Regions from separate parts of the Homo sapiens genome. Here regions 2 and 3 are each linked to region 1. Evidence: fine-mapped expression QTL. A gene starts in region 1. Each other region holds a variant in brackets. All regions are shown on one strand. Distances are between the middles of the regions.

Region 1 (11,239 bases):
GCTGAGAGTGGTGGCTCACACCTGTAATCCCAGCTACTCGGGAGGCTGAGGCAGGAGAATCGCTTGAACCTGGGAGGCAGAGGTTGCAGTGAGCCAAGATCACGCCACTGCACTCCAGCCTGGGTGACAGAGCAAGACTCTATCTAAAAAAAAAAAAAAAAAAAAATCCATAGAAGTATATGCAGAAAGAATGAATTTTAGTGTAAACTATGAACTCTAGTTAATAATGCACCTATATTGATTCATTAATTATTACAAATATATCACAGTGATGCAAGATGCAAATACTAGGGGAAGCTGAGTGGGGCACAGGGAATGTATGGGAAATCTCTGTAGTAGCTGCTCAATCTTTCTGTCAATCTAAAACTGTTCTAAAAAGTAAAGTGTCTCTCTATATATAAATTGAGTGCTAGCATCAACAAAATGCAAATTTAAACTATCATAAGCTACTATTAGACTGCATTTAAATAGCTGAAATGACAAAAATTGACAATATCAAGTTTTGCCAAGGATGTAGAGCAAATGGAAATCTCCTATATTGCCAACAGGAATGTAAACTGGAACAAACACTTGAGACAACAATTTGGCAGTTTCTTTTTTTTTTTTTTTTTTTGAGACGGAGTCTCTCTCTGTTGCCCAGGCCGGAGTGCAGTGGCGCAATCTCGGCTCACTGCAACCTCCGCCTCATGGGTTCATGCCATTCTCCTGCCTCAGCCTCCCGAGTAGCTGGGACTACAGGCACCCGCCATCACGCTTAGCTAATTTTTTGTATTTTTAGTAGAGACGGGGTTTCACCGTGCCAGCCAGGATGGTCTTGATCTCCTGACCTTGTGATCCACCCACCTCGGCCTCCCAAAGTGCTGGGATTACAGGCATGAGCCACCACGCCCAGCCAGCAGTTTCTTTTGAAGTTAAACATACATACACCATATAATCCAGAAATTCTACTCCTACATATTTACTTAACAAAAATGAAAATATATATCCACACTAAGACTTGTACACAAGTATTATCAACAAATCCACTGAAAAGGATCTTCCTTAAAAAAGAGAATGATTTTATTCCTGTAAGCAGTTTGCAAACCAGGGAGACCCAGCCTTCAGTACAAAACAAAGATGCTCTCCCTGAGAACAGAGAGACAGGTTATCCTTTATAGAAAAAGCTCCCACCCAGATTCCCACTCTGGTCTGCTCTGCAAGTGAGAGGGATGCAAGTATGTTTGGTTTTGATTGGTCAATGCAAGTCACAAGTCTATTTGTTAGATCCAGAAGTCAAGATGAGACTTCCCAGCACCCATCAAATCAGGGAGCATAAATAGGAGCAGACAGCCATGAAAGTCCCCAAATCACGCGAGCCTGTGGTTTCTCAGAGAATGCAGAAGACGTTTGTGACCTGGCTCCATTCTGAATTTAGACCCAGTTAGCCACTCAGGATCCATTTGGAAGGATTGGCTCTTTCAGGTTCATGAAGTGTTCATGGCAGCTTTATTTACAGTAGCCAGAAACTGGGTTCTATCCCAGTTACCTTTAGTGACTTTCAGTCATACTCAGCTTCACTGAACAGTACCCCTGAACTGGCCCTTTAAGAAAAGGAAGGCGTCTTCTGCTCACGAGGTCGGAGGGAGTCCAGAAGGGCAGGGGGTGTCCACTGGAGCTGGGGGTGCTTTGTAGGAGGCAGATGCTGATGAGGAGAATGTAAGGCTTCAGAATATGTAGGAAAATGGGAGTTGTACCTCTTTGTAGTTTGTTGGATAGTGGCTTTGTATTAGTTTCTTGAGGCTGTGATAACAAAGTACCACAGACTTCAACAGCAGCAGTATGTCCTCGCACAGTTCTGGGGGCTGGAAGTCAGAGATCAAGGTATCAGCAGGGTTGGTTCCTTCTGAGGCTGTGAGGGACAGGTCTGTTCCCGGCCTCTTACCCTGGCTTGTAGATGGTCATCCTCATGTCCACACAGTGTTCTACCTATATGAGTGTCTGCCTCTTTATCTAAATCTCCCTTTTTATGGGGACATCAGTCATTCTGGGTTGGGGCCCACCCTAATGACCACATTTGAACTTGATTACCCCTGTAAAGACCCTATCTCCAGATAAGCTCATGTTTTGAGGTGCTGGGAGACAAGACATCAACATGGGAATTTAGGGGGATACAATCCAACCCATAACAGGCTTGAGCCTTTTTCTTTCTGTGATTATGTGGACCACAGTCCCAGATAGCAGCTACTGGTCCCAGATCATGTACAAGTGGTCCCAGCATTGTGAAGGACCTGAGGATGTCTGGGCTACCTTGGCTTTGAATAACCAGCCCAGGAGCTGTGTGAGAGCCTGTCCTGCCCCTTTAGAATACTGAAGTTTGAATTGGATCCCCTAGCTAAAATGTTGGCATTTTAATAGTTACAGAGAAAAGAAAGGAACCTTAGCTCTTCTGTTGAGGGTTTATTCTGCCTGATGCTTTCGAAATAAGTTTGTTATTTTGGCAACACTAATGAGGTAGGTGTTATCCCCTTCCTGCAGCTTAGGATTAAAAAGCTCAGTGGGACTAGGTAGCCTTCGTCCACACTGCCTAAGCTGTTATTCAAGTACAGGTAGTAAGAGGGATTTGAACATAGGCCTTTCTGACTCCAGCATCCGTGTTCTTTTCATAACCATGAGCTATTTCATTTTCTAAAAAGTGTTCAGTTGAAACAAATGCAGAAATTATTCCTCTCAATGTATGTAATAGATCTGTGTTTATCTGATCTAATCCAGGATATATCCTCTGAACAGAAAAGTTAGAAAAGACGGCATTAGAAAAGACATGCAGACAACTCAAAAAACTATGAAACTTTATGGGGAAAATGTGTTATCACCTGATCTATATCTTAAAATGGTGAGAATTCATGGCATCCACCTGTCAAGATAAAGGAGCAAAGGAACCACGCTCCAAGTTTTGGGAAGAAAATAGCACATGGTGGCGACTGGGGGTGACATGAGACCCCACTCCCCATCAGGAATCTCAGGCAGCCCCTCCCTTCTTGGATATGAACAACTGAAGTTTTCTCAATCATTTATTTTATTTTTTAACTGATTAATAATAATTATACATATCCCTGGGCACCTAGTGACATTTCTATACCTATAAGGTATAGTGATCAGATCAGGGTAACTGGCATGCCCGTCATCTCAAACACTGACCACTTCTTTTAAAGTGTAGCCTGGAGCTCCCCACTGTGGATCCAATGGCTGCCACAACCACTTTGCAGAACCAGGTCGCTGAAAGGCAGCTTGACAAAAAGACTAAGATGAGCCAAGTGTACTGCAACATGGCACAGGAACCATTGATCAAATGCTGTAACTTGGTGTCATGACAACGGACAATGATGTCGAGTGGAGTGCTGGATCTCTTATCACCACTGTATCACACTGATTTAATCACACTAATCTAAGCTTCTTGAAGGGGAAAGAGAAAAGCTTTGTAGTAGCTCCCCTTCCTGGTGCTGTTCAGAAACAACAATGGTGCAGGCCACACCTCACAACGAAGGGGGCTCGGCTGGCTGGGCACAGTGCTAAATGAGCCGCAGGTCAAGAGGTCACTCCTGCAGCCAGGCCGACCTTTAGCCACACTCTGGTCCAGGCGACAGATGGGGCCCTAGCCTCAGTCCCCTTTCATCTCACATATGGGGAGTTCTTGGCCACAAGAGGACCAATTCAAAATAATATCCAGTGACTTGGTGAATAAACTCTTCCACTGGAGATGGTATTGCATTGTTGGATGTATCTTGAACTACAAAGCTTGCTTGGGGAGATTTGTATAAATTGAAGATCATTTGATTGGTTTTCATTCAAGTCCCTGCTTTCAAGTGCCTCCTGTATGTTTTTCAGTGGAACACAAGAACCCGAATTCAGTCCTTCACCTATTTCTACTGGTGTTGAAATCTATAAAGACATAAAATCTACTTGCTTAGCCAATGAGCCTTACAGAGTGTCTAGTTGCTCTGATTTAATATATCAGTGTATCGGGAAACTTTAATCCTGAGTGCAGGCTGTTGGCATATGGATTCCATGCTGGTGGTAGGTTTGGACTACCTCAGAAAAGAAATGGGCACATGCCTTCTTGTAAATATTTTGTCTTTGTAAATATTTTCTTTGTATTCATGGGTTCAAGATGCCCAGGAAACGTATGTGAAGCCCAGATGTCACAGGAATTTTCCTGGTCTGCTTTAAGGAAGTCCTTAAGCATCACACCTGCCAGTTCAAATACTATTTGAGCCCTGTGCATTTTTGAGAAATGATGTATAAGTAGAAAAATTATACAAGAAACATGGAAAAATCAACAGGACTATTTAAATGTTATACAGAACTTATGAACAGTTCAAACTAAATATTTTGCTATTAAAATTATTCAAGAATCATAGAAATCTGGAAATAAACACTTCATAAATAACGTTTTCAAATATCGCGTCAGGAAAAATTAGACAAAACCAGTTAAGGAGGGAAGTTACATTGAAAAAGACTGAGTTCTACTATCCCCTAAGTTTTGCAAAAATATTTTTAACTTACTTTCTAAAAGTTAGTGAGTTTCCATTATAAAATAGAAAAATTGTCTTCATTCCATGAAAGAACTGTCTGAAAATCAGAAAAGCACCATATCCTGGATTTCAAGGAAGATGAAACTTCTTCTTATCTTCTATTTTACTAAATACTCAAAATAAAATAATCATATTGTATTGAATCTGACATTGTTAAGGAAAATAGCTTAAAATTTTTAAATAATGAGCAATATATTTAATTTTAAAATACGAAGAATTAGGCTAAGGTGGTAATTTTTTAGTGAGTTGAAAGTCCAAACTATGAGTTCGGAAGAAACAGCCCTAAAAGGCAAATAACATGGCTTTGGAATAATCACAGGGCAAATGCTTTGTTCTACATAATTCTTCTTTTGTGAATTTTAAAATGCTCAACAAGTATTAATGAAATATGTCTAAGAAGTAGATATTGCTTTAAAATCTAATTTCCAGAGTCCCGAACTAAGGCAAAGATTGAGATTAAGTCTCCGCCCAAAGTCTTAAGTGAGCCAGTGGAAGATGGCAGTTTATTCATGAATTGTTGGTTATCTGCTGCTTAACTACTTAACACAACCCGGTTTGATTGGTAATCAGATCCTAATAATGTATGTTTCAAAGAAAGGGCAGTTTCCTTAAAATCCTTAAAGACTTGTCACTTTGAAAACTGGAATCAAAATGTGAAAATGTTATCGGTCCATCTGGCAGTGTCCTTGGGTGTTTTTTAGAGTGGTCTCATAGTGCTATTTAACTATGCTGAATATTTGACACCCAGTCTCTGTAGGAAATTGTGATTTTTATCAGCGAAGAGGCAATTAAATGCTGTCATTTGGCACGTCCATCCATCAGGGATCTTATCACCCAAGAAGCATCCAGCAGCAGTTGCTGTCCTTTCCAGCTGGCAGACAGATAACAGAAACTGTCCTGTGTGAGGCACAATAGTCTAACATGATTAGAAATCAGCCAAACTCTGGCTTCTCTTGAGCTATACTCCCCCACAGGCTGAATTATAGCTCTCCTACCAGTCCCACGGCGCTGAATGATGTCATGGGATCTGCAGTTCAGCGAGATGAAAGGGATAAAGCAGAACCCGCTGGCACTAGGAAAAGCTTCCAACACACAGTCCACAACACAGCTTGGGAACCAAAAAAGCTACAGATCCAGCCACTCAGCCCAAGCATGGGAGAACTACCAGCATTGCCTCATTGCAAAAAAGAGGAGGAAAACAACGTGATCCATGTTTAACAAAAGAGTCTGTGGACTAGGAGGTGGGAGGGTAACTACCTGCTGAAAGTGAACTTTCTTTGATATCCATGCATATATATAAACTCAGCCCTGCCTTTGATGTTCAGCAACTGATTCACTGATCAGATTACAGGCATTTCATCTCCCTGCTCGTCTGCCTTTGATCTGCATGGTTAATTTTATTTTCCTGGATTTGAAGTTTCGTCTGGGCTTGTGCTGACATACATTTTTGGGAAGGTAGAAGCATTTGGCACAGAAGTGCTGCCAGGAGAAACTAAGTTGCTGAACGGGTAAGTACTGCAAAGAGCTCAGCATGTTGCAGGTACTCTGTTTTAAGCTTTGTTATAGCTTTCACTGCATTTTTCGCATGTGTTCTGAGAAAAGAATGGTTTTAATTAATTTTTTAGAAAGCATTTATACAGCTGAATACTACATGATGCTGAATGTGTGTATCAGAGTAACTATGGAACTTGATGTAATTTTTAGTAGTTTGTACAAGAGGGTTTGCAGTCTGTCATACAAATTTTACTTGGAAATGAGTTGTACAAACAGGACAAAACAGAACAGCGCTCACTTTAGCATGCAACTGGTACTTCAACCCCTGAGATCTGTGAGCTATAATTGCTCTAAGTATTTACAGGTTACCTTATTTAGTAAACAGTCAGTGCAACTTTGCTTGTTGAAAATGCTTTCTTTGTTTTCTTATATAAAAGAGTAAAATGTATCTCTGGCAATACTGTTTCTTTAGTTTATTTATTCTCTCACTTCCAAGATGTAAATCTATCAAATACACTTCCTTATGCAGTTTGTACACTCAAGGGAATCACTGAAAAACCATCAAGTATGATTAAAGACTTTTATGTGTAAAACTGAAGAATTTAAAAACAGTGAGGATAAAGTTGCACTAAGTTTGGCTAAAAATACTCCAGTGATTTTCTATAACCTTTGGAAATAGCATAAGCCTTATTTACAGAAACATTCACAAGGTTAATATTCCTAAATTAACATTTACTTTACATTTATAGTGACAGCTGTTTTAAGTCAAAATTTGCCAACTGTTTATGAAAACTATCTGAGTAATCAACAGTTATTATGTTACATAAAGTATCTTAGTCACATTTTCACTTTAGCTAATGCCCAACATGACAAAACCAAATTATATTGCTGTACCGAATTTGAAAGTTAACTGTTATTTTTTTGTCAGTTCATGATACACACACACTCACGCTCACACACACACACAGTAAAATCTTTACAGTGAAATATAAAAACTAAATACAATGGAAAAGTAACACTGTTACTTTGTTCGCGATGTTTTTTTTTTTAATGTTCTAGTCCTAAATTTATCTGGGCAAAATATTTAATTATTATCACAAGTCTATTTGATGCTAGCTGAACCATAAAGAAACCATAAGTGATAAGACCAGTTATCCTTTAGTCTGAAATTCTGATGAAACAGGAAAGGTCTAATGAGTCTCATTTCATAAGTAATTAATTTTTCACAGCCAATTAATTAAATTACTTTCTACACTTTCCTCTTGATACTAGAAGGGTAATTAGCATTGTTTATTTAATTTTAAAACTTTGCTAGTTGTTAAGTGGAGGTTATTTAAAGCCATGCTAAACTGATTATATTTTTAAAGTGTGTCATTAATAACTTAATCTTAAAGATTTAACTGCTGTTTTTAGTCATGCCAGGAGAGGCATTTGCTTTTTTTTTCTAAGAGTACAACAAATCATGTTCACAATATCCTGCAATATCGGTTTAGTTTGATTTTTTTTTAATTTGTTTGCTTAAAATCTTCCTTTTAATCACAAAAGTGGTATTAATGTTCACATTCAGATAAAGAAAATTAGCCTTTTAAAACAATGACTGGAGATGGTGCCTAAAGAAATAGTGTGTCTGAAACTTGCTCATTTAGTTCAGATTTGGATTTTAAAATTTTTAAAATGACTGTTTATCCTGCTACTAGGATCATTTTAACAAATACAGGCTCTCCTCAGCACAAAACAAAGGGGAGAATTAGCAATTATCTGATTAATTTAGGCTTTGTAGAAAACTAGCTTGGGCAAGTCAAGTCCTTGAAAATCCACTTCAGTGTTTGAATTAATTCAGTTAATTGTTTACTTCTAGTGTCATTGTTGAGAAATGAAATAGAGTGTATTTGATTTTAAAATAAAGATGGTTGTATCTGAAGGTACAGGTACAGTCTCAAAAGGCATTTCCTAATTAATTGCCACAAAATGACTTTGGCAGATATAGTCCTATTACTTCTACTGAACAAAACCCTTATGTGACATTTTTCAAAGCACTTTCCTATCTGTTGCTTCAATGGCAGCTTTGTTACTACAGAAAGTCCAAGTCTTCAAAAGACTTTTATGTTGAGTCCTGATACTGTCACCAATTAGCTATATGACCTCAAGAGAGTTTCCTCATGTGTGAAGTGAGGGAGTTGATCACATCATCTTTATGAAATAAGCAGAATTGGAATTTTTATGGCCATTTTACAGATGAGGAAACTGAGGCTATAGAAAACGAATGTCCCTATCTTAACAAGGTCACATGGCTGATTTTCCCAGTTCTAGTCCAATGTTCTTTCCAGTCTACCATGCAGGGTCTGCTTTCCAACAACTGCTTAAACAAATGCACTCTGTAGCTCATCAAAGAACAATATTAGTTTGAAAAATAAAGACAGCCACTTCCTATTGTAGTGCATTTTTTTTTTGTTTCCATGATAGATATGTCAGTCAGCTGGATTCGTCTGATTATTTTCCAACTGTTCCTTCTACTTCTGGACTTCTAAGCTGTCTAAACACAGTAGCTGCTACCCATAATTTAACATAATTTAACACGTAAAATAATTTTCACAAAAAGTTTAATGCATCAATGTGATGTGGAATTATATATGTATTTGTGTGTTTGCCTCTGTGTGTGTGTGTACATACGAGTTTGGCATTATATCAACACATATTTGTGTGTTTTGAAGGAATTGATATTTTCTTAGATGATGCCAGTGGCATCCAAAAACAGTTTAATAATTAAAGGTTAATTTTCCTCCAGGGAAATTCCCAGTGGGATTCTGTGAAACTTCAGTTGACAAACTCAATGTGCATTTCAAACATGATATGATATGTGTTTCATATCATGTTTGATTATGTTAAGACTCTTGAGCATGTTTTCATTATCTCTTTGCTTTTCTTCCTTGAAAAAATATATCTTGGGGCCAGGAGCGGTGGCTCACGCCTGTAATCCCAGCACTTTGGGAGGCCGAGGCAGACGGATCACGAGGTCAGGAGATCGAGACCATCCTGGCTAACATGGTGAAACCCCATCTCTACTAAAAATACAAAAAATTAGCCGGACAAGGTGGCAGGCGCCTGTAGTCCCAGCTACTTGGGAGGCTGAGGCAGAAAAATGGTGTGAACCCGGGAGGCAGAGCTTTCAGTGAGCCGAGATGGCGCCACTGCACTCCAGCCTGGGTGACAGAGTGAGACTCTGTCTCAAAAAAAAAAAAAAAAAAAATCTATCTATCTATATCTTGTGTGAAAAATTTTAATTTAGTTACTAATAAAATTTTATACAAATACAGGACTCTCATGGCCAAACAACTGCCCTCATAATAGGGCTTATCACCCTCTTTAGGATTCCTACATATACAAGATTATTACTAACATGACCTAATATTTATTAATTCACTCATTATCAATTAATTCAATATCAAGTACTTGTGCAAGGATAAATAACATGTGCAAGATTATAGGAATAATTCAGTGGCAGCATTGTGATCTACATTTTTTTTGTTCTGGGGCTAGGTGATTCATTCTTTTTAAGAATTACACAAAGCTGAACTTGACTGTCAGCAAACATTATAGCCAAAATTTTGGCCAAAAATATGGGCTCCAGTTTTTTTTTTTCCTTTTATATATTTTGTAAGAACTATTAGACATTTTTAATAGTATTTTCTGTCAGGATGGCCATAAAGGACCTCCCTAAGCCATGAAGGCATAATCTGTTCTCCCTCTGCTTCAGGAGTGAACTGAACTCAACCATCTGGCATTGGTTTAGTCGGATTCTCTTTCTGTGATGGCAAGGCCAGTCCAAGCCACCCTGGAAGAATGAGTGATTTTGTCCCCTTTAAAGGATGGTTCTTTAAAACGTTGTCCACCTGGGTGAGCTCTGTGATGGGAGGGCAGAGGGAGGCTCCCTGGTGGCTGTGTTGGCTGTGCTTTAATTTCTCCTCTACTGTCACTAGTCATTCAGCTTTGGCTCCAAAGTTGTTACCTCAAACCCACCCACTTGCCAAAATCAATACTCACTTCTTTAGATTAAGTAGGTAGTTTAAAACCCTCCTTTGTGACTTAAATTTTCTCTTTGATGAGAAGGGGAAGGAGAAGTCATGTGGGGGTTTCCAATGACTTCATAAAACCATTCCTTCCAACATAACCCACTGTCTTTGAGAGGAGTTCTGATAAAGATAGTTTTCTCCATCCTGTTAAATGCCCCCCATTCTTTGGTGGCTCTATAGCTTAGCACCATGGGCTGCTGCCCAGCCAGCCTGGCCTCAAGCCAGCCCTAGGTCGGGGAGTCCACCATGTTCATCAGGAAGGAGAGAAGGAGAGTCAATGGACTGTCTCTTCCCTCATCGAACTCATGAAAAGGGTCTAGCCAATGAGGTACTCAGGGCCAAACTCACAAAGATCAGTGCAAGTGCTGCAACTTGTAACAACTTTGCTCTGTAAGTGTCTTGAGCTCCACTTACAGGAGGGGGCTATAAAAATAGCCTCCTTGGGTTTTTCATATATATTGGTTTACGCACCCATGGTATGGTGAAGATTATGTTAAGATACAGAAAGCCCAGATTCTGATTCCAGCTTTGTTAATTAACTTGGTGTGCAGCATTCAGGAAGTCACTGGGCATTGGCCTCACGGTGCTCCCTCAGCCCCATGCTGATAGTCTATAATTGGCAGTAGTGGGTATCGGGAATTACTTAAATAGCTAGGTCTTGGGGGTTCCTCCTCCACTTATTTTCTTAACTGTATTTGGAAAACTTTATTACTCTTTGAGATTCTCACTCTCAATTACTAATTCATCCAACAAATTTTTAATGAGAACTTACTATGTGCCAGAAACTGTAAACCAAAGAGACAAAATTTCATATTCTCCTGTAGCTTGCATTCTATTCCACTTTTTTCCCAAGGAATAGTGATTTACACTAGAAATGACTAGAAGTTAGGCAATTTTTCATTAGCTTTGCTACCAGCGAGCTAATTTATCACTGAAACTATTCTTTCAGGGGTTTTTCAAGTTTTCCTTAGTTCAACTTTTGGGGAAAAATATTTTAAACAAATGCACTTTGTGTCAGCTCAGATATTGCTAAAACTATCTTCAGAAAACTAACTTTTAACATAAATCTTAAAAACAAACACCTCTATCAAGATTGTCATAGCAATT
Region 2 (11,239 bases), 82 kb before region 1:
TTACCAAGATTCAGATATTTTTCTTGAATAAATGCTCCCTGGATGGCTGAAAGTCTTTGGTTAATGCCAAGAGAGTTGAAAAAATGGATTCTGCTTTTCTTTGCCAGTTTTTTCATTACTGTTACGAAGGAACAAAATTTTGGATGTTCTTAATCTGCCATTTTTACTACTGTCACCTATTTTAATGTTGTGTTTTTATAATCTACACTGTACAAAACTAGCCTCACAGAATTATGTTGATAAGGTGGAAGAAGAGATTTTTAAAACATTTTATTAAGCTCAGAATATTCATTTTTAAACTTTCATTCAAAGTAATGTAAATGATACTATATTTCTAAATTCATCTTCTACTGTTCATTAGTAGTCAGATTCAATAATTTATCCATAAATTATAGTTAAGTTTAAATTATCTTTTGATGAAAGAAATGGATTCTGGATCCATGAATTTCCTATATGTTGTCTTCTCCTGATAGAAAACAAAAATTCACAATCTTTTATCAAATTTAAAGATGTTTGGTGATACATTTTGACAGTGTAATATCAATATCATCACCAACTCTGCTGTCAATAAACTATGGAGCATGTCACAATAACTTACAGAAAGTCTGTTCTTTCAAGCATCCAAGTTTCATTTTGTGCTTTAATTTCATGTGGCATTAGAAAACATGTTGCCTTCCTTCCTTGCATAGGAGTGTGAGCCTCAGAAATTTGAGACTGAGACCTGTCTCAAATTTCTGAGGCTGAGGAAGGAGAATCGCTTGAACCCAGGAGGCGGAGGTTTCAGTGAGCCAAGATCGCATCACTGCACTCCAGCCTGGGTGACAGAGTGATAGATACCCTTTCTCAAAAAAAAAATTTGATATGGGCCACATTACTCTGAAGTCCATACATTAGTAGGCAGGCATGAAAGTGCCTTATGTATGTAAACAGGTTACTGTTATTTTCTGCCGAAGTTTAAGTTGTCTGTCTTCAGCTTGCAGGGTTTTTTTTTTTTTTTTTTTTTTTTTTTTTTTTGAGACGGAGTCTCGCTCTGTCGCCCAGGCCGGACTGCGGACTGCAGTGGCGCAATCTCGGCTCACTGCAAGCTCCGCTTCCCGGGTTCACGCCATTCTCCTGCCTCAGCCTCCCGAGTAGCTGGGACTACAGGCGCCTGCCACCGCGCCCGGCTAATTTTTTTGTATTTTTAGTAGAGACGGGGTTTCACCTTGTTAGCCAGGATGGTCTCGATCTCCTGACCTCGTGATCCACCCGCCTCGGCCTCCCAAAGTGCTGGGATTACAGGCGTGAGCCACCGCGCCCGGCCAGCTTGCAGGGTTTTAAAGAAGAACAACTTAGTTTTCAGTGACTTCAAATTAGGAAAAATGAAAAAGAGACGGAAAAAAATTGAAAACATTATTTTGAAGACTTGTAGCCAAGAAAAATTAGAATTTGGTCCAAACTGTAGAAAATAATAAAAATTGGAAAAAAACATTAGGCAAGACTAGAATCTAACAACAGATATATAATCATTTTGAAATAATTTTTTTCTCTCTCCAGTTCCCCATTTTACTAAAGATAAATCATGGTAGGGCTGGTTTGGTTATTATACTTGGCCTAAGTATTTGTATGCAGTGCAGCAAAAATAATTATTATTTTTACATAGGCTTTTAAATTGGCTTTGATGGAACTTTGTTCCATAAGAGGAATCTCAGATAAGACTTCTTAAAGCCCAGCCCAGCCATGGATTGTGCTATCAAATACCCATGAGTTGGGTGAAATTTCCTGCTGTCAGGGTTTCAAGATAAACCTGGGACTTCTGTGCCTGTCAGTAAGTGACATTCTTTACTTACCATGGGTCAGAAACCCTATACAGTGTGTACACAAAATATGAGGCTAATTTTTCCAAGGTCTTATTGGCTCTATAAGTCAAGTTTGATTCCTTAAAGGAAAGCACACCATTCCAGTCAAAGCCTTGGTAAAAGAACCAATTTCTCCAATTGCATCCTGTTAAAATGAAAACAGATTCTTATTGCACTTATGCAAATAACTGTGTTGCTGTAAGTTAAGAATACTCGCAAGTACTTTACAATTCTGGAGAAATCAGGTAGAGAGAAACAAATGTGTTCCAAATTTTGTTCACAGGAGTGTACTAAATTGTTAAAGCTGTCAATAGCTCAAAAGAAAAGTTTTTAAGACCTTGAAAAACAAAAGAAAGGATCAGCAAACAAATTCAGAAAAAAGTCAGGCAGGGTGCAGTGGCACACTTCTGTAATCCCAGCACTTTGGGAGGCCAAGGCAGGTGGATCACCTGAGGTCAGGAGTTCGAGACTAGCCTGACCAACATGGCAAAACCCAATCTCTACTGAAAATACAAAAATTAGCTGGGTGTGGTGGCGCATGCCTATAATCCCAGCTAGTTGGGAGGCTGAGTCAGGAGAATCGCTTGAACCCAGGAGGTGGAGGTTGCAGTGAGCCAAGATTATGCCACTGCACTCCACCTACATGATGGGAGCGAGACTCCATCTCAAAAAAAAAAAAGAAAGGAAAAGAAAAGAAAAAAAAGAAAGTAAACAGAGCAAGTGACCTTGAAGAGAAGAAAAAGAAAAAAACCAGAAAAAGAAAAATATTCAGATAACAGATGAGAATTTTTTTTTTTTGAGACGTAGTCTCAGTCTGTTGTCGAGGCTGGAGTGCAATGGCGTGATTTCCGCTCGCTGCAATCTCCACCTCCCAGGTTCAAGTGATTCTCAGGCCTTAGCCTCCCGAGTAGCTGAGATTACAGGTGCCTGCCACCATGCCCAGCTAATTTTTGTATTTTTAGTAGAGATGGGGTTTTGCCATGTTGGCCAAGCTGGTCTCAAACTCCTGACCTCAAGTGATCCGCCCACCTTGACCTCCCAAAGTGCTGGGATTACAGGCATGAGCCACCTCCCAGCCCCCCATAAAGTAATTCTTTAAAAGAAAATTGAATTGAGTCATTAGAGATGACAAAGGAGAATTTAAATAATTTATCTGATTCAAGTAATTTTTCATTTAAAACATAAAAACCAGGACAGAATGTCTTGAAAAGAGATCAGAGAACAGAAAAATTGTTTGGAAATGAAAAATATGATTGCTTCCCCCCAAAAAATCTTTCAAAGAAATTATTTTAAAATTGATAAAAAATAACTTATACAAGGTGAAAAAGTATATTTCCTGAGTGAGATAGGAAAATATTTTTTAAAAACTACAAGAAAGAAGTAATCCAGGATATCTAATATTAGACCAGCAAGAGTTTTTAAAAGAGAGAGCAGTGAAATGAAGGGAAATCATCTGTGCGTCTGTGTGTGATTTTTGTAAAATCATTTTTTAAAAACTTTTCTCAGAACTAAAAATGTTATGTCTTGAGGTTGAATTCCAAGCAGGATAAAAATAAAGAAGCCTGAAATGCATCTTTGTGAAACTTCAGAACAGTAACTAACAATAAATGGAAGATCCTAAAAATCTTACAAAGGCAAAAAACAGCCCAGCAGCTAAGGAGCAGGAGCTAGACTGCAGCAGAGTTTTCTTATCAGCAGCACAAAATGTTAGAAAACATTGAAGCAATACCCTCCAATTCAGAGGGAAAACAATTTTGAAAGTTCAATAATAGGTGTAGACAAACAATAAATGATGAAAGAGAAAATAATACATTTGATGCGATACTGGAAATTCACCTCTCTCATACCTTTCTTCCCCTCCCCAGGAGTTTACTGGAGGTTATACTCCAGTCAAAGAAGATGGAAACCAAGAAAGGACACATTTTGGAGATTAGCACTGGCTCCAGGAACCCAGTGAACAGAAGACTCAGGCTGAAGGCTTGTGCATTCAGCCCAGAGAAAATCCACTTAAATTCAGAACAATTAAGGACTCTGGGGAAGAAGGACTTCACATGGTAGTGTGATTGGAAGGCAGATAAATTTTAGGACACAATGGAAGTTCCTAAGATTTTTTATCCTTTTCCAATAGGAAGGATAAAAAAATCATCTAAAACTAGAGGAAAAATCATCTAAAACAAGGTATAAAGAAATGGCTCACGTGTGACCCTTATTTTACTGTGACATGGAGCATTTGATGAAGGATGTGGGAAGGGAGCCTGCTTAACTATGAAGTGAGTAGCATCGCCCCAGGAGCACCATGACAGATGCACAGGACATGGAGGGAAGGAAATGGCATCCTGGCACAGCCCTGGCTCTACATTGAGCAATGTAGACAAAATCATAAAGGCTGCTCTAGTTTTCTACTTTTAGAATCAACCTACAGACATGTAAGACTTAATTGTAGTTGTAGAATAAAAGATAAAAGATTATTGGCTTTCATAACAATAAAGTCCTAACAATGATTCACAGTTATTCCATGAATAAGGGTAGGGGAAAAGAGGGAGGAATGTAAGGCATTTTATATGGAGCAAGGGAGGCAAAAGACGTTGACAGAGGCTTATGGAACAACACACACACGCACACAAATAGAAGGAATATATTGCTTAAAATGACAAAAATAGCCAACATAGGCTGGGTGCGGTGGCTCATGCCTGTAATCCCAGCACTTTGGGAGGCTGAGGCGGACGGATCACTTGAAGCCAGGAGTTCAAGACCAGCCTGGCCAACATGGTGAAACCCCGTCTCTACTAAAAATACAAAAATTGACTGGGCGCAGTGGTGTGCATCTGTAGTTCCAACTACTTGGGAGGCTGAGGCAGGAGAATCACTTGAATCCGGGAGGCGGAGGTTGCAGTGAGCCGAGATCACGCCACTGCATCCTAGCCTGGGTGACAGAGTGAGACCGTCTGAAAAAGAAAAAAGCCAACATAGGAATTTTTAAAATAATATATAATTACCAAAAATTGGGGAAAATAGAGACAGGGAAGGCAGTTCTATAAGCGAGATAAATCTTTATCTTTTGTATCAGAAAGTCAATAAATATTGTCTGAATTTGATTGGTTATTTCCATTTTTATGAAATGTCTACAATAGGCAAATCTATAGAACCAGTAAAGAAATTAGGAATTCCTGTGGCTGGGACTGAAGAGTGAAATCACTGCAAGTGGTCAAGAGGGATCTTCTGAAGTGATAGGTGTGTTCTAAAATTGGGCTGTGGGGATGCTTGCACAACTCTGTAACTTTGCTAAAATTCATTTCATTACACATTTAGTGAGTTTTATGATATGTACATTACCCATCAATAAAGCTGTGTTAAAAAAAAGGCTGATTTTTTAGGCTGGGCGCAGTGGCTCACGCCTGCAATCCCAGCACTTTGGGAGGCCAAGGCGGGGGGATCACAAGGTCAGGAGATCAAGACCATCCTGGCTAACATGGTGAAACCCCGTCTCTACTAAAAATACAAAAAATTAGCCGGGTGTGGTGGCGGGCACCTGTAATCCCAGCTACTTGGGAGGCTGAGGCAGGAGAATGGCGTGAACCCGGGAGGCAGAGCTTGCAGTGAGCGGAGATCATGCCATTGCACTCCAGCCTGGGTGACAGAATGAGACTCTGTCTCAAAAAAAAAAAAAGGCTAATTTTTAAAAAGGTCAAAGAAGAGATGTGAAAATATATTATTTAGAGTTCTGTAGGCAACCAACAGGAATAAAAGTAGAAATGTTTTCTGGGATGATCTAGGAGTTGCTAGGGTGAGGAAGTGTGAAATGGAGGCAGCTGTTTATCAGTTATGTTTTTATCAGTTTATCAGTTCTGTTTTTCTATACTATTTCCATTTTGTTTATCAATGCATGTATTACCTCAGTTCATTATTAGAGATTTTTTAAAACTTTAGATTTCTTAATGCAGAAAAAAATGTTTCTTGTTTTTAATCTTTTAGAATTTAAATATGAGTAATGATGGCATGTGAGTAAATGAATAGAATTTATTTTTTCTCCTAAAGACCAAGGCCAAGGGGCAAACTCTCTTACAAACCACCGCTCATAACTTGATGTGGACAAGAGCTCAACTGGGCATCGCCAAAAGTCCATGCCACTCCCAAAATAGAATGGAGGCAAGGAGACTAAGCAACTGATCTTTCTGGGAATGACATTTGGTGCAGCTGTGTTAAGCGGTTGCCATGGACTAATACAGAAAACATAAATAATCTCAGAGAAGCAAGTGCCCGAGAAAAACGAGATGACACAGGAAGTTGCTAATGTTATCAGCTGTCTTC[A/C]TCTGTTTATATAAGAACGCTGCCAAAGTAACCATCTATGTGCCCAGGTTTTAAGCCGCATGACACAACCTCTTTACCCTGAGGTGAGAGTGACATGGTGGCCAATGAGAGGCCATCACTGTGGAAAACACATATTAAGACTTTTTGAGATATGAAGTAATGGGATAGATCATGAGGACTTGAGGCTACAAGCTGACGACCTTGCAGTTGGTTCAAAGAGCTTGGGGACTTTTCAGTGTAATTTTGCTAGGTGACGAATCGGAAGCTTTCACACCTGCATTCCCTTTCTTTTTTTCTTATTTATTTATTTATTTATTTGAGACGGAGTGGTGCCCTGTTGCCCAGGCTGGAGTGCAGTGGCGCAATCTCAGCTCACAGCAACCTCCACCTCCCAAGTTCAAGCAATTCTCCTGCCTCAGCCTCCCAGTAGCTGGGATTACAGGCTCCCGCCACCACGCCTGGCTAATTTATTACTATTATTATTATTATTATTATTATTATTATTATTTTTGGTAGGGACAGGGTTTCCACATGTTGGCCAGACTAGTCTTGAACTCCTGACCTCAGGTGATCCACCCACCTCGGCCTCCCAAAGTGCTGAGATTACAGGCGTAAGCCACTGCGCCCAGCATTCCCTTTCACATAAAATGCTACGTGAATGGTGGTAATAAAACAGTCAGAGCGATTCCATGCAACCCAACAGATAACGTGGTTTGTGCATTTTTTCTATCCATGAGGGAATGAGAAAGGCTATTCCTGCCTTTCCGTCAATTCCATTCAACCAAATATTTCCCATTTTAACGTGAAATCAGACCTCTCATGGGTTGGTCTGTTGTTGGAGTGACCACACTCACTTACTCCACTTGCTCCGAGGTTCCTCTCATTACCTGAACATGCACACGGGGCCCAGCAGGCACTGAGGAAAAGGTTGAGTGGCACTTGTCATCTGCATGCCTCCCAGGTGGGTCCTGCTCAGGGAGGAGTGTCCAATAACCTTGGTGACAGCCACAGCCTGGCAAGATTCATGCCGCAGACAACACGGTGCCCGAATCCCTTCCTTATAATTCCCCAGGCATGGGGTTAGTAGACAAAGCCAGTGAAGCTGATAAGAGAAGCAACATGTAAAAGGGGAGGGCACCACGTTGTCCCCTAAGACAAGAATGGAAATGGTTTAATGAGTTTGTTACTTACTATCTACATGATGTTAAAACCAATCCAGGCAGGGCAAAATAGGTCAGAGCCTTTTCACAAAGCCAGTACTTTGTGTAGTGAGATTTTAAAGACATTACCCTGTCAGTGAGAGAGAGAGAGCTACAGTTAGACAAACATGATAAGACAAAGAGCTAAATATAAAATAAAAAATGCAGATGTGAAATCATATTTGCAAGTCTTTCTTTTGCTGTCAGTAGTTGGTAATTGGTTGTAGCCACCCAGATGCGAGTCAGATACATACAACCGTAAGTACCACTTAAAATTTCAGTGGCTAAAGAATCTTGCCAGAAAGAATTTTTTAGTCAAAATTCCTAAACATTTCTCATTGTGCCAAAACGTACATATTTGCTTATAATATATCAAAATAAAAATGAGAATTTCCTTCATTTCTGGTGTTGTGAAAAGTTCCTGATAGATATCTCATGGAGACCAGGTTCCAAGAGCATTTCCTGTGGCCTTACTGCAGACAGCAGATCATTTCAGCCTCCACTCAGGCGAATGCTTAGTGGCTGGGAGTGTGCACGCTCTGGTTCAAGTGCAGTGAGGGTGGGGTACTAGACTCACCACTTCCTAGCTGTGGGGTGTTACTCCAGGCCTTTAAACTTTTATCAGAAACTCAAGCCTTCAAGCTTTCATCTCTTCCATCTCTGCACCTCACAGGACTACCATGAGCTTAAATGAGAGCACACATAAAATATGGTAAGAAACGGGTATGATTATTTTTCCTATTTTATAATTGAAGGCACTGAGGCCAAGAGAAGTGAAGTGGCTCCAAGTCACAAAGCCTTGGGTCACAAAGCTGGGATCTGAAGGCAGACTGTCAATAGTAAGGTTGTTATACACAGTAAATGAGTTAATTCATGGAAAGCTCTTAGGAAAGCCTTGGTTATGAGAAAGCTCTCAATAGAGATTAGCTGTTTTATTATGACTTCATTCGCTTTCACGCTATTTAAGCCTTTTCCTTTATTTCACTTCAAAAATGAGGGCTTGGTGGGGCTGGGCGCAGCGGCTCATGCCCGTAATCCCAGCACTTTGGGAGGCCGAGGCGGGTGGATCATGAGGTCAGGAGATTGAGACCCTCCTGGCTAACATGGTGAAACCCAGTCTCTACTAAAAATACAAAAAATTAGCCGGGCATGGTGGCAGGCACCTGTAGTCCCAGCTACTCGGGAGGCTGAGGCAAGAGAATGGCGTGAACCTGGGAGGTGGATCTTGCAGTGAGTTGAACTTGCGCCACTGCACTCCAGCCTGGGCGACAGAGCGAGACTCCGTCTCAAAAAAAAAAAATGAAGTCTTGGTATATGTGTTCACATAGTCTCTAAGGCTGTACATTTTGAACTTGTTCCATTTCTCTGACCTTGTAACCCAGGCTTTTGGGAAAGCTGTATTCTCCAGCGGATGTGAAATAGAGATGGCAGTAACAGTAACGTAGATATAAAAATAACTCTTCCAAGTGGATCAAGTCACTGGTGAAGGAATGCATGTAAATCCTTGCAAGCCTCTTGGGCAGTCTGGTTGCTCACTAAATGTTTTTATTTAATGAAACTTGATGGTGATTTTTAAATCTCATCCTTTTAGGGTTATGTACCCCATAATAAAGGAGAAATGATGTATGGACTTTTTTTTTTTTAACAAAAGAATGAAAGCCCGATTTATAAAGTAAACATTGATGGCAAGGTTTACATAAATGGAGCAATCTCTCCTACATAAAAGGAGAGATTGCGGTGGAATTAGGTATGAGGGATGGAGAATCTCTTTCCTCTGTTCACCATGGCAGATACAACTTGTGCTGTTCCCGGCTGTTTTTTGAGGTGCCATAAGGATCAAAACAGCAATCTGTCAGTAAGTTGGTAAGTTCCATGGGGCCAACCTAAGTTTGATCCCAGCTTCCACGGTCACTAAGCCCAGGACTGTGGGCAAGTTTCCTCATCTGTGATATGGGGATAATGACAGCACCAAGCTTTTAAGTCTGTGTGGGGATTAAGTGAGATAAATGCAAGAGAGTGTGAGAAAAGGGCCTAGGATGAAGCATGCATTCTACCTATTGACTATTAGTAGTATCCATCCTCCTTATTAAAGCACACTAACAACAAAGCTATTACATGAAGACACATAAAAGCAAACTTGAAAGAGATGGCAGGAACTTCAATACTCCAGTGGCAGGAGGCAGCCTCTGTGCTCACACTGACTGCCAGGTGCCCGTGAAATAGCTACTTCCAAGAGCTGGTAATAGAGTTGAAGCGAAACTCCAGCTCCAGTACCTCCATTTCCTTAGAACTAAAATGTGGAACGTGGCTGGGTACGACAACTCCGGCCTGTAATCCCAGCACTTTATGTGGCCAAGGTGGGAAAATTGTTTGAGGCCAGGAGTCTGGGATCAGCCTGGGCAACATAGCAAGACCCCCATCTCTATTAAAAAAAAATCTTAAAAAAATTAGCCATGCATCGTGGTACACGTCTGTAGTCATAGCTACTCAGGAGGCTGAGGTGGGAGGAGGCTGAGGTGGGAGGATTGCTTGAGCTCAAGAGGTGGAGGCTGTAGTGAGCTAAGATTGCGCCACTGCATTCCAACCTGGGTGACAGAGTGAGACCCTCTTTCAAAATAGATAAATAAATAAAATGTGGAGCATACAGCTATAAACTTTCTAAAACTGAGCGTGTTACATTAAAATGGGAATTATACTTTTGAAACTACTTTTAAAAATGCTTGTATTCTTAGAAAAAGACCATTTTAATGCAGTTCAGATGAAATATCAGAAACTTTTCATGAAGAAACCATCAGAATTAAAGAATGGTATTTGATTATGATATGATTGCCTAATAATTATTGTTTGCTTGGGTTTTTTTTTTTTTTTCCAGAATCCTATTTCTTTTCTTTTCTTTTTCTTTTTTTTTTTCTTTGAGACAGAGTTTTGCTCTTGTTGCCCAGGCTGGAGCGCAATGGCATGATCTCGGCTCACCACAACCTCCACCTCCTGGGTTCGAGCGATTCTTCTGCCTCAGCCTCCCGAGTAGCTGGGATTACAGGCATGCGCCACCATGCCCCGCTAAATGTTGTATTTTTAGTAGAGATGGGGTTTCTCCATGTTGGTCAGGCTGGTCTCGAACTCCTGAGGTCAGGTGATCCGCCCCCCTTGGCCTCCCAAAGTGCTGGGATTACAGGCGTGAGCCACCGCGCCCAGCCTCAGAATCCTGTTTCTATTTAACATCGTCCTTCAACCGGCTCTGAAATTGAATTATGGGAGAAAGCCAGTTACGAAGGCACAGAACCAGACCGTGGTGTTGTGCTGGGTCTGTTCATGAGCACAGACATTCTTCCCCTCTTTTTAGGCTGAGCACATGATGCCTCTCTCGGCTTCAAAGCAAGCCCTGGAATATGACTTTCAGCATCTGCTCCTCCCACAGACAATTCCCCTATGCCCTCCCAACTCTTATCCCACCTTCCCTCAACTGCCTGGCTCACTTTTTATCCTCATTTAACTTTCCAGAGGGAATTCTTTGCATAATCAGTCTCTTGACGTATTTTACTAAAGTCACAAACTGACTTGTTTGTGAAAGTCTCGTAGAAAATGGGGTGGTGGGGGAGTCCAAGAAAACATTGTGGTGAATTGCATGGGAAAATCTGTCAACTCACTCATACTAAGGTAAGTAGAAGAAAATTTTCTTAATAATATTTGTCCAGCTAGGAAACACTTTTTCACTTGTCTTTGGTCACCAGCTTATGTTCTTCATGAGTGACATGGCAAATCCGGTTGACACACCAGTTGGGCATGACTGGTCCCTTCTTTCTGGCTTTCTCTCAGACCTAAGGGGAAAACATGGGGACCCTCGTCTACAAGCATTCTTGGGGATGGCCAGGGAATGCCCAGGCAACATGCACA
Region 3 (11,239 bases), 54 kb before region 1:
CAGTGGTAGAGATGGGTTGAATCTGAAATTGTTGTGGGCAAAGTCTTCAGTCTGTTTGACTCCCTATTAAATGAGTTCAGATTATTCATCCCTGCAGAGAAAAGGAAAAGCCAATTTCCTTCTGAGCAGCAAAATGAGCACAATAAAAATGTCTCAATGTGTTCTCTGGAAATCTCACCCAGAAAGCCACTTCACACTCTCAAGGTAGAACATGAAACTCCTAGATTGTTCCAGAAGTCTTGCTCAATCGGGAACATCTAAATGGTTCCTTGGCAATAAGCAAACAAACAAATGCATAAATGATGTTGCTTCAGCATTTTAAAATAAGAGTAGCCTAGACATGCTTTCCAAAAAAAGATTAGTCTGTATGTTAGAAATGAGTACTAGATAGCCTGTCTCTTAATCACTGAAAATAATATTCTCTTTCTCACTAACATAATCCAGAATAATCTTCTCATATTGTTATGACACTTTCAGAAAGAAACCACCTGTGTGTATCACCTGGCACAATTTAAAACTTGTTAACAAGGTGGTGACAAGGAATTGGATGCCAGGCAGGAGTGGTAGCTACATGTTCCCACCAAAGTCAGTTTTGATCTCCCTGTGCCTTGCTCACTAGCAGTTTAAGCGTGTGACTTTTCTTCAATGAGCAGCAAGATCACTGTTCTTTGCCAGCAGGTGGTGCAAAAATCTTTTTGCAGAAGTACTATTCACAGAAAAGCATAGGTCACCTCAGTGGGGACTCATGGAACACATGACCATCGCTTCTGGAAGAAGCAATGACTAGGCTCTTTATTTAATATCAATTTATGTTACTTCCAGAATGAACCACCTCTTCCCCATCCCAACCACCCTGCCACAATGGTTCCAACACACTGGGTTGTAAAGACTTGATTCGTGTTAGCCATTTTGACAATCCCAAATGTCCTATTTCGGAGCTCTCACCTCATTCCATCTGCTTCCCCTAGATGCCTGAAGTTGACTACAGCCCTGCAGTAGACCATTAGCCATTCCCCAGAGAGGCCAGCTATCTGTAACTTGACTCCATGAGCCCCACCCTCTTCCTCTCACTCTGTCTGGTAGGATTAAAGTGGGGGCTCTGGGTTTGCTGGCCTAAATCCCATTCTCCACCTTAGTCTCTGCATCCTAGAGATGGGATCCAGTGCAATCAAAAGTGGTCAAAAGCAATTCACTGTTGTTATTATTTAACAACAGAAATATTGGACTGTGAGACATATTGTAGAGAATAAACTAAAAATGTTAGCCACTTTGTAAATAAAAATGATCATAGAAATTCTGAACACTTTAAGATCCACTTGATTATCTCCTATATAATCTCAGTCAAACTTCTTAACTCTTCTGTGCCTCGATTTATGTCTTTATTTACTGGGCATAATCTATTTTTGCCACTTGACAAGAGAGAATGTGGGGAAGTCTAATACACTGTAAGCACCAGAGAAGAAAGAATCAACGATACCCATATTCAATCCTTAGTCTCTGTGCCAGGCAGTGTGCCAAGGACTTTCACAAACTTTGGTAAAACAGCTACAAAGGGGTAGTGCCAGGATTCAAATCCAGGTTTTCTGCCTCCCAATGCTTCTCCCACTTCCTATGCCAATTCATAAACCCTAAATCAATCCCAGGTCACAGGCTCCAGTATTCAGATTCTAGAGAACCCATAGGTTGAAGATGATCTTCAATGCCATGATCCTCCTTTGCTGCAGAGAACACCACTCTCACAGCCTGCTGACCAGGAAAGACCGTCCCCCCTCACCTGCCACCAATACATGCCCACAACTTGCTTTAAAATCACTCTGACTTTACAAATGAAAAAATGATCCTGGAAGGACTGGACATTCTGCTCCCCATCACAGAGACAGCTGACTGTGATCTTCTTCCCTTCAACTTAGAGCACCAGAGGTCTAAGTTCTCAGACTCCAGTAGGAGAACAGACAAATTGTCTCTCACTCGTCACCCTTCTATGATGGTCAAAGATGTCTTTGGGTAAACTGGATAGCCCTTAAGTGATCTCTTTGCCCTGGGACCACTTCCAGGATCTTCCCCTTCAGCTTCAAAGCCTACACTGAGTCTCTGTGGCCACCCCCACAGCTCCCTTCTCTTCTCTGCATCTGCAGTCCAGCCTAGCCCAACCCGCCCTCCGCCTTTCCTCTGTGCTCACCATTGAGGCTGTGCAGGAGCTACACTGGGAACCTGAACAGTCTTCCTGCCCCAGCCCCTCAGGTTCCTAGGCTCTGAGACTAACCCCCACCTTATTTAGTTACGGTTCGAACACTCCTTTGCATTTCTATCATTTACCTTTCACAGAGCAGGGAAGGCAGCTCAATTTCATCCCCAAAAGTTACTTTCTCCAACCTAATTCTCACCAAACACACAATCTATATGCTCTGTTAGTGCAGTTCCTAAATTCACCTACAGGGTGAATATAGATTTTATATGTAATCCCGTAAACTTGTATTAGAGAGCATATTTTATATTGACACACATCATGCAATTGATTCTCATCACATTTGTAGATGACATACCTTAGGAAGTATTTCCTTCGTAATATATTTTAATGTCATATTTAAGAATGTAAATGTTTTACAAAAAGTTTTTAAAAATTAGCTTGGCATGGTGGTATAGATATGTTGTCTTAGCTACTCAAGTGCCTGAGGTGGGAGGATGTCTTGAGCCCAGGAGGAGGCTGCAGTGAGCTATGATTCTGCCAACGCACTCCAGCCTGGGTGACACAACGAGACCCTGTCTCAAAAAAAAAAAAAAAAACCAAGAATATAAATGTTTGATATGATATATATGTTATCCTTTTCCTTACTAATTCTATTGGTGCCTAATTTTTCTACTCAAATTTTGCATTAAGTTTATCAAATGAATGATCCAGGTGATATCAAGACCACATATCATTTTTTCGTATCCACATTATTCAGTAAATGTTGAAGTATAAACCAAATACTATTCACCGAACTTAGCTGCAGGAAGAAAAGAATGAACAAGCAATGCTCTTAGCCTTGGGGGAGTTTATTATCTAGAAAGGGAAACAATTAAGAGCACAGCCAACTGTTCCACTAAAATGCCGAATGAGGTAAGACAGTCTCAGCAGCATAAAGAAAGCTGTCTAGAAATACAGAGGAGGGAGAGATTGTTCTGGCTGACTGTAGGGCTAGAGAACAGAAATAGAATCAGAAAAGAGGACGAGATCTGTGGCATGTGAGGGTGAGGGCATTTACATCAGTCCAAATGGATGAAGAGGAGATTCCAGTCTAGCACAGCATGGCCAGTCAGAGTAGAAGGGAGGCCCCAGCATGTGGGGAAGCTGCAATTAACTTTTTACCAAAACCTACCCCTGGTGAGGCAGAACAGAGAGAAATAATACCAAAAGCCACCCAACTGAAAAGGTAGGTGTGGATTCAAGAGACATTGAAAGTAGATGCTTCAGAATTTGACAAGGGTTGGGTATGAGAAGGAAAGCCAACAGTGCCCCTTCTAAGCACTAAGCACCGTATTTTATGTGTCTGATGCGTTAACGCTAAATCCTCAGGATAAACTCTACAAGAAAAAGAAACCAAGACATAAAAGAAAGAGCTAGCTGAGGGCCAAGTTATTAGAACCTTCAAGGCTCTAACAAACTGAGACGGTGTTTGGAGGCAAAGGGGGGTTGTACTGAGTTTTGAGCAAGAACATGGCCTGCAAACATAGGCTACTCAGCAAGTGGGTGGCCTCCACGGTCAGACTCTCTGGGCCGGGATCCTGGCCCTGTACCCACTGGGTGTGTAGACTTGGACCAGTTCTGGGAGGATAATAACAACCCTGCCAACTTGGAGTAGTGTGAGGATTAAATAAGTGAATACATGTAAAGCATTTAGAGCAAAGGGTCGGCATTTTCAGAGCCAGCTCCAGGCAGGCTGCATGACAGGTGTGCAGAAGGGGAGACACCCTGAAGAGGTCAGGCACTCACAGGACCACTTGCTGAAGCTGTCTGCTGGACAAAACATGCTGATGACCTAAACTTGCAAGATGTGGATTTAAAAGACATTTAGGTCTGTAATCCCAGCACTTTGGGAGGCTGAAGCCGGTGGATCACCTGAGGTCAGGAGTTCAAGACCAGCCTGGCCATCATGGTGAAACCCTGTCTCTACTGAAAATACAAAAATTAGCTGGGTGTAGTTGGTGGTGGGTGTCTGAGGTCCCAGCTACTTGGGAGGCTGAGCCAGGAGAATTGCTTGAACCCAGAAGGTGGAGGCTGCAGTGAGCTGAGATAGCGCCACTGCACTCCAGCCTGGACAACAGAGCGAGACTGAGTCTCAAAAAAAAAAAAAAAAAAAAAAAGACATTTAAAAGAAGAATCTCAGAATTTGACCACTGGTTGAGTATCAGAGAGAAAGATCAAAGATATCTCTCAGGGAGATTACTGGGAGAATAGGGGTGCCAGTAGCCGACAAGAAAGCCCAAGAAAACAACTGGTGTTTGGAGTGGGAATATTGTGGGGGTGGGGGTGGTTAAGAAGATAGAAGATCAGATTTAGGTGTGTTTAATTTTATCGCCAGTGGAATGTCCAAGTAAAGATGTACAGCAGGCAGTGTGAAATGCTTCCTAAAACAGGAGAAACTAAATTCTGTAAGGTTTATCATTATTCCCATGGTGAATTTCTACTCAGTCTTCAAAACACAGCTCAGAGGCTGCCCCTTGTGTGGAGTCAATTGAGTTGTGCCACTATCCCTAGCATTTATCAAATTGCACTGTGTTTGTTTACATATCTGTATCACTGAGCTCCTTAAGGAAAGAAAGGGTGTTTTGTTTTCACCCTTGCATTTATGCTCAGTGATATTTGGTTGAATTGACAAATGGATATAAACATCATTTCCAGAGCATTGTGAATTTAAATCGTGAAGATATATGAGATTTCAAGGGAGAGTGGAGAGAGAGAAGGAAGAGAAGATCAAGGATAGATTTCCCCTTCGGAGGACTCCTGCATTTAAAGGATGGCAGAAAGAGGAAAATGTCATTGCTGGAGGGCACAGACAGATAGAGAATAGTGAGGCCACTAGAGAGTGGAGCCCCTATGTCAGACAAACCAAAGGAGGTTTCCAAAAGGAGAGGGCATTGGTGTCTTGTGCTGCGAGGGCAGAGATGGGAAATACATGCACACCCGTGGGCGGGGGCATGCCTGGGGCCAGCAGGGCGAGATTTCACAGGGGAAGGAAGGATCCTGGCTACATCTGAGGGATCAGCCAGGACTCGGTGCCAAGACAATGTTTGCTCGGTATCCCCAAGCTTCTGAGTTTTCAGAGAAAGCCAGAATGCAGATATGTATGTAATATTAAATCTTAGCAACTAACTCAAGTTTTAAAAAATAAAAATAGTGTGCCCAAGGCTACGTGGGTCTAACAGATCCTACCTGACCTGG[AG/A]GGAAGCCAGTTTATAACCTCCAGTGAGGAAGGAGGAGGTTGAGAGAGCAGATATCTGAAATGGTGTTAAGTGCCTAGAGATCTAGCAATGAGTTGGGTGTTGAGGAAACAGAGGTACAACACATAGAAATTAAATTCTCTTGCCAGGTCTTCTTGACTTCCTGGACTATGATGAACGGTCGTCTTGAGAAGACCCCCTACACCAAATGCGCGTATCGGAACCTACTCACTCAGAACAGCATGGGTTAGTTCCACTTACTGGTTTAAGAAAGCTCAACGGGCAGAGGAAAAATAAAAGCTGCTGTCTCCCTAAAAGCCTCACTATAATACCTGTAGGGTATTACATAGCTGTGACTGGATTTAATCAGTTAAGGTCATAATCATTAGCATTCATTAGTGTCTTTTGAAGTCTTAAGGAGGTCCAGGGAGATTCAGATCCTGAAGTGATTTTGTTTTGGCTGTTGCCTGCTGGGAAACCAAGATAAGAGCCTCCAGAGACCGCAAATACAATAGAGGTTCACAGTGGAAGGATTCTTGGCTGAATCTGTTCAGTAAGGTTAGTCTTGCCTTCCAGAGAGCCTTTGACTGGTAAGGATGTCTGAGTGTTATTCCTCCACTGAGCTCTTACTGCGTACCTAGGGCAAGTTGTTCCCCCTTTTAGACTTGGTTTTCTCATGGATAAAATTGATATAATGATAGCAAGGCTAAGACTTTGTGGAGGAGGTTTTATGTATTTATCATAGTGCAACATGAAAGTGAGTGCTTGATTGTGTGTATGTGTCTGGAGAGCATGCATCACAAGTGAAAAAACATCTAAAAACTGAGATACGTTTGTCTTTTCTTTTAGTCCATTATCTCCAAATGACAGACTAGACTGACATCACAGACACACATTCAATGAGCTGTTTGCAATCACAGTCTTCATCTCTTGGAAACATTCGTACTGGTTTCATTTCAAAGGCAGTGCTGTCTAAAGGCTATGAAGTATCTTATTGGAAAGCTCCAGTAAACAGTATCTTATTTCACTGAGAATTTCTGGAAAGTTACTTCAGAATTTTTCAAGATGGTACAGGACAATCCTGCTCTACTCAAAAGAAGCAAAGGGTAATTTAGTAGCTGTGGGGTGAAATTAAATCATGTTGCCAAAACAGTGTGAAGAATCTTGCTGAGGACTTTAATGGTATCATTCTCAATTTCATGAAAGCTAAGTACAACCTAGGGTTTCTGATGCACTCTCTTACCACACAGTTCTTTCATTTAATGTTTAATCTTTACCGCCGCTTTGATGTATGGATTTGTTTATTTTGTAATTATTTTGTTTAAGACACTCTATGATTATTTCACTGTTGTGCCCATTCTTGCAATCCGTGGGGTTTTAAAAAATCTACCTATCGCAGGCAATCTCTAGGGCCATTCTGCCAAAAGAAAATAGTAGGATTAAAATCCCACACACATGCAAGAAGCAGCTAGGAATATAGTGGAGTCAATTTAAATATATACTAAACACAGGACAAATGCATCAAGTAGAATGCAGACGTGATTCCATTCCAATTCCAGGCTTCTGCGTTTTAAGCACCTCTTCCCTCCAGCCTGTGCTGCTGGTGGCAAAGAGCTGGTCTTGGGTGGCCCGGGAGACACCTGTCTCCTTTTGGATAATTCTACCCCAGAGCAAGGACCTGGATGAGACCGGTAGACAGAAACACTGCTTTGGCCCACCACATAGAAAGACATATTCTTGCAGGCTTAAAAAAAAACTGACTTGACATATTTCCTCAGAGCAAAACTCTTCTGCCCTTACAACACTATTTCTCACCCACGTGCACCAGTTCCTTGGTTCCAAAGCAAGAGAGTGCTCAGGGTTCCTGTGAGGGGTGGGTATTGGGTGTGAAGGCATACAGGGAGGCTGGCAAAGGCAGTTCCTGAAACTGATGGTCCTTGGAAACTATATACGTTTCTCATGTTGCCATTTTCACATTAAAATCCTAAAAGTAGAAAGAAATTCACTCAGGTTTCTTATAATTATGAGTTTTCATAATCAAAATTATGATATAAGTTAACTTAGTGTGTAGGTACTTTTAAAATAAAAGGAAAAGTGACCTGTATGTTATCATTATGTTGTTATTATGAAACAGAGTTTGTATAGTTCTTAGAAGAATGCAAAACACTTTCCTACACTTGAACTCATTCAAGTCTACCAATGAGATAGCAAATACAAGGATGATAATGATGGTGAGGACAATGCTTATCTTAGAAAAAGATACTGAGATCCAGAGAAGTTCACAATTGGTAAATGTCAGAGTCATAACTGTTGTGACTTTTAAGACCATTCTTCCCCACTTCACACCATTGCCTTATACCAACACTTTATAGAATAATTCCTATTGTGGAGTTCTGTGGGCAGGCTAAGCTTCTTGTCTACTTAAATAGTAACAGTAAAGCTGAATCAGTTGCACTGGAAGCCTGGATGTAATAGGATCCTTTAACATGTCAATGGCGTTCAGTATACCTGAAGTACCAGAAATAAAGGACTTGTTATAATACCGCGCTGCCAGATAACAACCTGACAACACCAGTTCTGGGGATAGAGTTAGTGAAACCACTGCAGTTTTCTCTGGCTACAGCAGCTGAGTTCTCTACAAGCCTTCTTGCCCCAGTATTTAGCATTGCAGCCAGCAAGAATCAGTGCACAGTGAAATTTTTAATTGAACGCTTACAGAAACATGTCATTTACTCTTCCTAAACATGATTAATGTTGATTCATTTAAAATATTGATCAATATACATCATTGAACACACAAATATGCCTCTCCTGTTAATAAACAAAATGTGCACAAACTGAGTATATTCGCCCTCTTTCTACTGATTTACCTTCCTGCTCCAGACAGAAATCCTCTCTAATAAGCTGCGCACATCATTTTGAAGCTCTGATGTGTACCTGAAATCTCTCATAACTGTCTATTTTCCCTCTCATTTCGTTGCCTTAGTTCAATCACCTCACAATATTTTTAATTTGATTCTTTACTAAGCTGCTTCTAGATAAGCAAACTGCCCCAATTCACTCACAGTAAAGCAAAAACTAGCAAATGGAGTTACTGGATTAGTGTAGACTAATCAAATGCTCATGGTTTCAATGAATGTTTAGTGAGTTTCTGAAAGCACATGGCTACACAGTTACCTAATTATAATGCTGTTGTTTTTAGTGGTACTAAGAACAACAGTCCTTCTATAAATCATTATTTCCCTTTTCAAACAGTTTTGATTCATTATTGCATTATTTTCTATCCATTAAATATGTTTAATATCAAATATATTATTTCACGAACTTCATCTGAAGTACGGGGAGTTTAGAGTGCAGGATTTCACACAATCCTTCCAAATTTGAGGACTGGGGCCCAGAGATAAGGGAAGGTACTTATGATTGGATAGAAAAAAACAAAATCAAAGGGATTACTTAATAATTATTTCCAAAGCCTGTAAAGCTTGACCTTATCCTTAGTGGCAATACTTTAAGAGAGAGAGGATACATTGATTTAAATCAATGGTTCTCACAGCTGAGGATGCTTTTCCCCCAGGGGATGTCTGCAATGTCTGGAGACATTTTTTATTGTTATGACTGGAGTTTGGGAACAGCTGTTACTTTTGCCTAGTGGGTCCAGGCCACAGGTGTTGCCAGACATCCTACAGTGCACAGGACATTCCCCCCACAATGAAGAATTATTGTCCCAAAATGTCAGGAGTGCGAGATTGGCAAGCCCTGGTCCAGACTGGACCTGAAGGTTAGTTTCCTGACACCACATATCAGACTCTAAATTACACAGCTAGGGGAATTTATCCAGTTTTTTGAAATAGGAAAAAAAAAAACAAAGGGACAGAAGATGATGATTTCCATTTTTTCATCACCAGCAGCTGATGCTGTGAAACGATTACAAGCTATCAGGGACATTTTAAATTCATGATTGCACCTACATGAACCTCTTCATAGGTTGCTCTTCCCTTTGACAAGAGTTTAGGACAAGGAGGCTTGTAGAGGGTGTACTGAAGACCCACCCAACATTAGACATTCTGATCTGGATTTGTTTTTCCTCTTCATTTCCTGAACTGACTTGGCTATGGATTAATGTTATCTTTACTCTAGCTTTAAGGCCTTAAAGTGCTGATAGCCACATATAGTATATTGCATGTCATTTCCATTAGGAACCGCAGCCATCGTTAGATCTGAGATGAGTTCTACGTGCCCACTGTGCCTTAGATTTTAGACTCCATAATAATGAAATTTAACTTGGAAATGTTTCCTGTTGTATTTATATAACACTTTTTGACCTGCCCAACCCAGCAGGAAGCAAGGACAGAAAACCATAAATAGATTTTAAAAGCATTCAAATGCAGTGCAAACAATAATCCACATTCAAGGTTCAACCTTGAAATTCCAGAAAAATTGGAGGGCTTTGTAAGGTTCACCAACCATTTGGTTCCCATCTACCTTTTTTTAGTATCTAACTTAACTGTTTTGAAAGACAATTATCACAATGACTGTTTTTTTAAATAACCAAGATTTGCCAATATAGTTTATTTCACTAACTGTCAAATGTTTTCTGCCTTTGGGAGTAGTATCTTTAAAAAGATATTAGATGGCTGGGCATGGTCACTCACACCTGTAAACCCAGCACTCTGGGAGGCCGAGGTGGGTGGATCACCTGAGGTCAGGAGTTCGAGACCAGCCTGACCAACATGGTGAAACCCCGCCTCTACTAAAAAATACAAAAATTAACCAGGCATGGTGGCAGGCACCTGTAATCCCAGCTACTGGGGAGGCTGAGGTAGGAGAATTGCTTGAACATGGGAGGCAGAAGTTGCAGTGAGCCGAGATCGTGCCATTGCAGTCCAGCCTGGGCAACTGAGCAAGACTCTGTCTCAAACAAAAAAAGGAAAGAAAAAAAACATATTAGATGGCAATAAGTCTGTCAGGGTCCTATCTTAGGTGGACAAGATTTCTCTGATGGAACTAATTATATATGACACTGTATGGTGTGGTGTTTAAAATCCGGAAACCAGAGTTGGAATGCCCGGGTTTAAATCCAGCCTTCCCACTTCATTTGTGTGAGTGTGTATGGGGAGTATGTTTCCAACTTAATCCTCCACGTCTGTTTCCTTGTGTGTAAAATGCTGATAATAACAGTATCCCCCTCATAGGTATTTTTCAGAATTACGTTAGTTAAACCAGTGATTCTCAACATGGTCCCCAAACCAGAAGTAACAGCATCATCCCAGGCCCTATTAGAAATGCATATTCTCTGGCTCCATCCAGACCCACTAAATCAGAAGTCCTTCAGGTAGTTCTGATACAAATAACCTGTGAGTTAAACCATGTAAACCATGGATCACTGCCTGGTACATAATGAGCATTCAATAAACATTCACTTCCATCCTGGCTAAAACGGTGAAACCCCATCTCTACTAAAAATACAAAAAATTAGCCAGGCATGGTGGTGGGTGCCTGTGGTCCCAGCTACTTGGGAGGCTGAGGCAGGAGAATGGCATGAACCCAGGAGGTGGAGCTTGCAGTGAGCAGAGATCGTGCCACTGCACTCCGACCTGGGTGACAGAGCAAGACTCTGTCTCAAAAAAAAAAAAAAAAAAAAAAAAGAAAAGAAAAAACAAAAAACATTCACTGTTATTATCAAATCTCTGTGGGCTTCTCTTTTACAATATATTTATATTCCTGTCTCTCATTTTTTTTTTTTTAGAACAAACCTATTTCTGAAATGTTTCTGGCTTCCATATGCCTCTGGCTTTTAGGAAAGCACAAGTGGCCTGCT

Direction of the effects. Alleles are on the strand shown, and positions count from the first base shown. SD is a standard deviation of normalised expression in the study named. Not every link is listed here.
As copies of C replace A in region 2, the expression in atrial appendage of the gene that starts at base 5,640 in region 1 goes up (moderate effect, 0.73 SD a copy in GTEx).

The links. PIP is the estimated chance that this variant, and not a neighbour inherited with it, causes the effect.
Region 2: its variant is fine-mapped to the expression of TNFRSF19 in atrial appendage (GTEx, PIP above 0.99).
Region 3: its variant is fine-mapped to the expression of TNFRSF19 in lung (TOPMed, PIP above 0.99).

What each region holds. Positions count from the first base shown.
Region 1 is chr13:23,564,773-23,576,011 of GRCh38, forward strand. TNFRSF19 (TNF receptor superfamily member 19) reads left to right here and starts at 5,640. Exons shown (of 10, transcript NM_148957.4): 1 at 5,640-6,076. RefSeq lists enhancers at 3,051-3,563, 3,564-4,075, 9,439-9,608, 10,079-10,228.
Region 2 is chr13:23,482,532-23,493,770 of GRCh38, forward strand. It overlaps LINC00327 (long intergenic non-protein coding RNA 327), which reads left to right. Exons shown (of 3, transcript NR_038995.1): 3 at 3,704-4,933. Among named protein-coding and RNA genes, the nearest start is that of LINC00327, 19 kb to the left of the region's middle. RefSeq lists an enhancer at 9,962-10,462. The variant A/C (reference allele first, on the strand shown) is at 6,147.
Region 3 is chr13:23,510,504-23,521,742 of GRCh38, forward strand. It overlaps LOC124903135 (a long non-coding RNA gene), which reads left to right. Exons shown (of 3, transcript XR_007063720.1): 2 at 11,168-11,239. Among named protein-coding and RNA genes, the nearest start is that of LINC00327, 47 kb to the left of the region's middle. The variant AG/A (reference allele first, on the strand shown) is at 5,423.